Homo sapiens: one gene and its partner. The protein of the gene in region 2 purifies or fractionates together with the protein of the main gene of each other region. This does not show direct contact. Each region holds a gene or a part of one and is shown on either strand. Other genes may lie near its edges.

Region 1 (2,911 bases), on a different chromosome or scaffold from region 2:
GCACAGGAAAATGGAGAGTTGGGACACTGTAAGCCTCCCAGCCCACCAGACCACATATCCCAAAAGGGAAAGGTCGGTAAAGAAAATACAAACGGTTAGTTGGTGCAAGTGATTGATAAGAGCCAATCGTTTATTTTCACTGTCCCAGTCACAAGCTCTCCCTCTGTCCCCACTCCTGCCTGCTCCTACCTGCTGTGGAGAGCACCCTCGCGCTGCCTCCCCACCCTCCCCACACCACCTCATCACTCTCCTTTACTTGGCTGCCAGTCCAGCTGCCTCAGAATGTCAGAAGGGTGCCATTTTCAGTTCTTTTCCTGTCTGACTGTAGGGTATAGAACAGGCAGCCCTAAGTGCTGCTTTCTGCGCAAATGTTTTTTGATTACAAATCTCTAACTAGGTTTGAAATGTTTTATAGAATAAGACAATATTCTTTTCAACAAACTTTAAAAAAAATGTACAGTTTTGTTGTTTGTTTCCACCTCCCCCCTCCCCCACCCCTGCTTGAGCACCCTCCCCCCCCACCACCCCTCCCCGGCAGCTCAGCCCCACCCCGACAGCCCCTGTTTTCCTTGGTTGTGTTTTGCGGGGGTGCCTGGCACCCCCAGAGATTCAGCTTCATGGCTGACAGGTGACCATGGCAGGGGCTTCACCGATACCCTTGGTACCCGTAGTAATTCCTGTAGTATCGGTCTCTGTCCTGGGGGTGGTGGTAGTAGTAACTCTGCCACTAGAAGAGAGGGAAACCCCATCACTTGGAGCCAGAGCTGGCTGAGGATGAAGAGGCATAACACTCATCCTTCTGCTCCTGCCCCCCTTCACCCTGTGTCTATCCCAAGAAGATACTCACATCCCGATTGTATTGTCTGTAATAGTCTCTGTATCTGTTGTACTCATAATCTCGCCCGTAAAATCGATCATAGTCTCCCCTGTATCGATCATAGAAATTACGGTAACCCTGAGAAAGGAAAAGAAAAAGGAGTGAAGGTTTATGGGTTTTTGGCAGCATGACCCACCGTGACCCCCTTTTAAATGCGACACATCTTAGCTCGATATTATAAATTGGTTTAATTTTCCCATAGTAAATCTTCCAGAACATATTAAATGGGCAAAACCCTAAGCCCTAAGAAAACAGGCAAACCACTCTGCTCCCCCAAGCCAACAGAATGGCTCTCACAGCCCAGAGTGAGGAGCAGAAGGAGAGCTGCACTCACCCCTCTGTTTCCAGGCTGCCCCCAGTACTGCTGCCCGTAGGCCCGGTTGTCGTAGCCTCGGCGCTGCCCGCCCACTGGAAGAGAAATGGAGAGCGCGCTCAGACAGCTGGCATGGGGTCCTGGCTCCACATCTGGGTGGAAATCAAAAACTTGGAGCCAAAGGCAATTCTGGGGGAATATGAGGCCTGCTTCGGCCAGGCTCACACATGTTAATTAAAGCACCAGCCAGGAACTTTTAAAAAGTCTGAGGGGGGAGGGCAGAGGAACAGAGACACAAGAAAACCAAGCCACTTTGTTTTTGAAGCTCCCCAATTCCTGCAAAACATTTAAGATGGCAAAAGGATACATGGCAGAGTTAGAAACATAAGGAAAAACTGCCATTCATAGAATCAGACTTTCAGCCCTGGAAGGGATTTCAGATATCGTATAACCCATACCTATCATTTTATGCAAAAGAAACAAAGTCTCTGTAATCAGCTCCTCAAGGGCGGGAACTGTCAGCATTTACAGTACCTAGCACATAGCAGGCACTCGGAAATTCTGCTGACTTAACAGTTACACACACACATACACACACATTTTTAAAGAGCAGTGAATGCACACTGGGGTTTTAACTGACAAACTAGACATTCAGGGGGAAAATTAATTCTACTAATAGCCTAACTTGCTTGGTTAAGTTCTTCCCCCCACAAAAAACACTGAATAAAGCATTCGCTTTCTTGTTAATCGAAATGACACAGAAGCAAGAAAACTGAAGATGAGAATTTGATTTCACTGCACAAATCCTTCAGATAAGACAGGAACAGTGACACTGGGAACCCATATGTTAAAATGAAAACTAGATAGATGAGAAAGCCCAAGCATTGCTTTTCAAAGAAACAAATACTTTTGTGAAAAGTAACTCTTTTTTAAAAAAGAGGATTTTTGTTGTTGTTGAAGAATTATGGAAAAAGCACAAGAAAAAGGCAGGGATAAAGAACACAGGAAGAAATAAGCTCCATGAAGAAGGCACTTCCGTATTGTTAATGACCTGACTTGGTTTCCTTGGCCTTCCCTTGCACATCTTGCTGTACTAAGCACAAAGAATGGACTGAAGTAGGGGGCTGGCAGGTCCCCAAGACTCACCATAGCCTTGGCCCCGGCTTCGGTTCTGCCGGTTACGCTTGTTTCGGTTGTTTCGGCGATTTGTCCGCTTCTCGGAGGGGGGCAGAAGCTTCCTTGCCTCCTCCTTGTACTTAGTGACAATGGGCTGAGCTTCCTCCTTCTCCAGCTCCCCATATGTCACCTCATCCATATAGTCGCATTTTTCAGGCAAAGAGAAGTTGGCTATAAGAGTAAGAGAGAAGCTTGTGGGCCTGAAAAGTGCATAGATGGGTAAGAACTCATTATGAAAACTCTACAAGAAGCATATGACTTTCTATGCCTCATCTATTACTGCACAAAAATGTGCTACGTTTATACCCACTCGCATCTAAATAATGACATTAACTTTTTCTACTCTAAGTTTTCCCTAAATTGTAACAGACCCAGGCAAAGGGCTATGTAGATTTACAAGTTCTTAAGTGATCTATAATAAATTAGGAGTGAACTGGGTTAAAGTTTCTCATCAGGACAGAAGCAGGTAACCAGAGGCTAAAAGTAACTGAGAAAGTTCTGGTGTTGGTCAGATAAGATGCTAAGAAATAACATTTTAAAAAGAG
Region 2 (3,446 bases):
GACTATAAATCATGCTGCTATAAAGACACATGCACATGTATGTTTATTGCGGCATTATTGACAATAGGAAAGACTTGGAACCAACCCAAATGTCCAACAATGATAGACTGGATTAAGAAAATGTGGCACATATACACCATGGAATACTATGCAGCCATAAAAAATGATGAGTTCATGTCCTTTGTAGGGACATGGATGAAATTGGAAAACATCATTCTCAGTAAACTAAATAACAAATAAACAAAACTAAACTAAACTAACAAATAAATAAACTAAATAAACAAAATAAGAAATTATTTTGGAGACAGTTGATAAAAACCATACATCCTTTTTACTGTTAAGTCATAAAGAGGTGTCAAAATTAAAAGGAAAAATTACAGGGTAAGACTTAGGACAACTACTAGGGGTGTCAAGGGAAGTGAAAATGGGACTAGGCACAGGGCAATATGAATTAATGAACATGGGAAGGACAAAGATGGGGAGAACAGTAAGCATGTGCTGAAGATACTAAGGGAGAGGATCTGGTGAAAAATTTGTTGTTAGACAAGCTCCTAGGTAAAGAAACAATGGGATAAGATTTCTCAACCCCACTATGTGCTTAAGAGTCATCCTGGCCATTGGTGCTGTCTCTGTCATCCTCTCCTTCCTCAGCCTCTTTTTCATCATCCTTGATCAACTCCAGCTGGTCATCCCCCTGATCTTCATTAACATCATCATCCAGTGGGTCCCCCTCCTCAGCAGAGTCTTCTGCACCCCCCTCAGACTCCATCTTCACATGAGTCTCATCTTTCTTCATGGAGCTACTGCTCTGCTCCTCTTCTGACTTAGCATTTTTCACCTCTACCTCTTGTTTGCTCTGTTCCTTTTCAATTTTTTCCAGGTTTTCCAGGAGAGAATCCACTTTCTGTTTTATCTGGGTCAACTCCTGCTTAATGGCCTGAAGGTCATCACCTTTCAACTTTCCAGACTTGGAAGATCCCCGCTTTCCACTCTTAGAATTGAAGCCACTTTTGCCCCTTCGTGAGGTGTTTCCTGATAGACGTTGACGTTTCGAGGGCACTACAGCCAGAGCAATGGGAGGAGGAGGAGGTACACGTGCTGGGAAACTGTACATTCCATCATAATAATCCCGTTGAAAGCCATAGTCCAAGTCAAAAGAGGAGCCGTACATCTCCGCTGCTGATCGTTTCACACCTGCGTTTCCTCGGTTCACTTTTGGCTCCGCAGCCAGGTTAATATCTACAACCTGGCTAGCAATCATTCTGCCATCCTCTCCTGCTACAGCAGCCCGGGCATTTTTCTCCTTATCATATTGAACGAAGGCAAAGCCCTTATGAACAGAGCAGCCCGCAATTTTGCCATACTTGGAAAAGATCGCCTCCACATCCGATTTCTTGACAACAAGAGTGTTGAGATTCCCAATGAACACACGGGAGTTCATGGAGTGAGGATCCATCTTGTTGGTAACGTTGCTGGCCATTGTGTTGGATGATAAGGTTTCTCAAAAAGCCAAAAACAGGAGGCGGGAGGGAGAAGAGATTCGATTCTAAGTCTCCTACTGCCGGGTTCTACGGGGAGAAACTGACTGCGGCTCGAGGCCAGAAATGCAGCCAAAACAGCTCAGTCTTCGTCTCTTCACAAAATGGCTCCCAACAAGAATTCTGAAATGATGTAAAGAAAAGCACAACAACATTTTTGAAATAAAGACAAAATTGCATTTAGAAAAAAAATCAAAGCTTCAAAGTGTTCATATGAAAAAAAGAAAAAAAGACAGGATATAGTTCTGTGCCGTCGTAGGCTGCACTGTCACCGTTCTAGACCGGCTGACTGTAGGTCAGATGGGAGTGTCCTTCCAGAAATTAGTGACTTACCAGATCTGGTTGTAGTTTAGACCTCTGGTTGTAGTTGTAGCTCAGACCTCAGGAAGAGCCAAGCAGGAACTCCAGGCTTGAAGACTTTGAGTCTGTCCTGTGGGTCTTTAGAAGCTTTTATTGACCTTTCTAATCACAACTCCCACCCACGCCCCTCCACATATCCGCTGCTAGCTTCCAATCAAAAAGCGATATCTGATTGCATTTCTGAAGCTCCACTCAGTTAATCCTGATTGGGTTTTTGGCTGTCCGAAGACTAATGGATTGAACCAGGTATCCATTCATATCACATATGCATATTCATTTCATGAATTAAGAAATTGACAGCGTTAGGGATAGAGTGGAAGTCAAGAATTCATTCACTCAAGGCCAGATGAGGTGGCTCACACCTGTAATCCCAGCACTTTAGGAGGCCAAGGTAGGTGGATCACCTGATGTCAGGAGTTCAAGACCCGCCTGGCCCACATGGTGAAACCCTGTCTCTACAAAAATAGAAAAGTTAGCCAGGCACGATGGTGGCTGCCTGTAGTCCAGCTACTCATGTGGCTGAGGTGGGAGAATCCCTTGAACCCTGGAGGCTGAGTTTGCAGTGAGCCAAGATTACACCATTGCCCTCCTGACTGGGTGACGGAGGGAGATTTTGTCAAAAAAAAAATGCATTCATTCATGAAATCCACAAACACTGATGGAATTTTACTGCTATGTCGCCTTCAGGTCCTGAGTGTGAGGCAGGGAAGGGGTTGATCTGTTCCGGACATTAGACAGAAAAATAAAACCTGAAAGTAGTGTTGTGGGGAGATCTTTGGCCACATCAAAATTATAAAAATGCTTTCTAGTTAAAACAACTTTATAAAAACGGAGTCATCCCTACAAAATAAGAATAAAGATCTCCATGTATGGAATGGTCTTGTGGGTTTTATATCACCTAAGGTAGCAGTTTCTTCACTCGTGCTGGTGGAAGAGAGGTGCCACTCAGGGCGTGAGTGGTCTCAGTGCTTAGGTTAAGGCTTCTTTGGAAGAAATTGAAACGATACCTATAAACTTTATAAATTTAATCAGTGAAGAAGGGAGGGGGAGAAACAAAAATAAACCAAGCTTGCAGCGCATTCAGCATTCACCATGAGGTCAGCTTGCTCTCTGACCTTCTTCCTCATGGTTGCTGGCAGCCTACTGTCCCCAAATCATTTAGACCTTAGATTACAGTTCCCCTTAACTGCCCTGCAGACAACAATTTAAGCCTTGTAAAACATTAACTTTTTCATTTGAGATATTCTTACGTTCTGCATGTCAGTGAAAGTACTGATGCCAGCTGATCTGAAGGGCCCTACAAGGCACCAACGCACCAAAGAATGCAGTTTTGACATCCTGATGACTTCATCCCTCTTAACTCTATATCAACTTTCCAGCCCCTTGCTATCCAGGATCCACTGGAAACCCTCAGTGGATCTCCTCCTTGGGGAGATGAATTTGAGGATCTCCTCCTAGCTTCTCATTTAGCCACCCTGTGATCATTAAACTCTCTGCTGCAAACTCTGCTGTCTCAAAATATTGGTAAGCTACTGTGCAGCAGGCATA

What was found. The genes of interacting proteins can lie anywhere in the genome.
Region 1: the proteins of HNRNPCL1 (region 2) and HNRNPUL2 purify together in Homo sapiens (affinity purification with mass spectrometry; 2 studies listed by BioGRID and IntAct, with this or other methods). This does not show direct contact.

Annotation. Positions count from the first base shown.
Region 1 is NC_000011.10:62,714,653-62,717,563, forward strand, and holds part of HNRNPUL2 (heterogeneous nuclear ribonucleoprotein U-like protein 2), read right to left. Parts: intron 2,538-2,911; coding exon 2,337-2,537; intron 1,286-2,336; coding exon 1,212-1,285; intron 956-1,211; coding exon 848-955; intron 728-847; coding exon 647-727; 3' UTR 1-646.
Region 2 is NC_000001.11:12,846,810-12,850,255, forward strand, and holds HNRNPCL1 (heterogeneous nuclear ribonucleoprotein C-like 1), read right to left. Parts: upstream 1,912-3,446; 5' UTR 1,872-1,911; intron 1,662-1,871; 5' UTR 1,481-1,661; coding exon 599-1,480; 3' UTR 568-598; downstream 1-567. UniProt on the Homo sapiens protein: May play a role in nucleosome assembly by neutralizing basic proteins such as A and B core hnRNPs.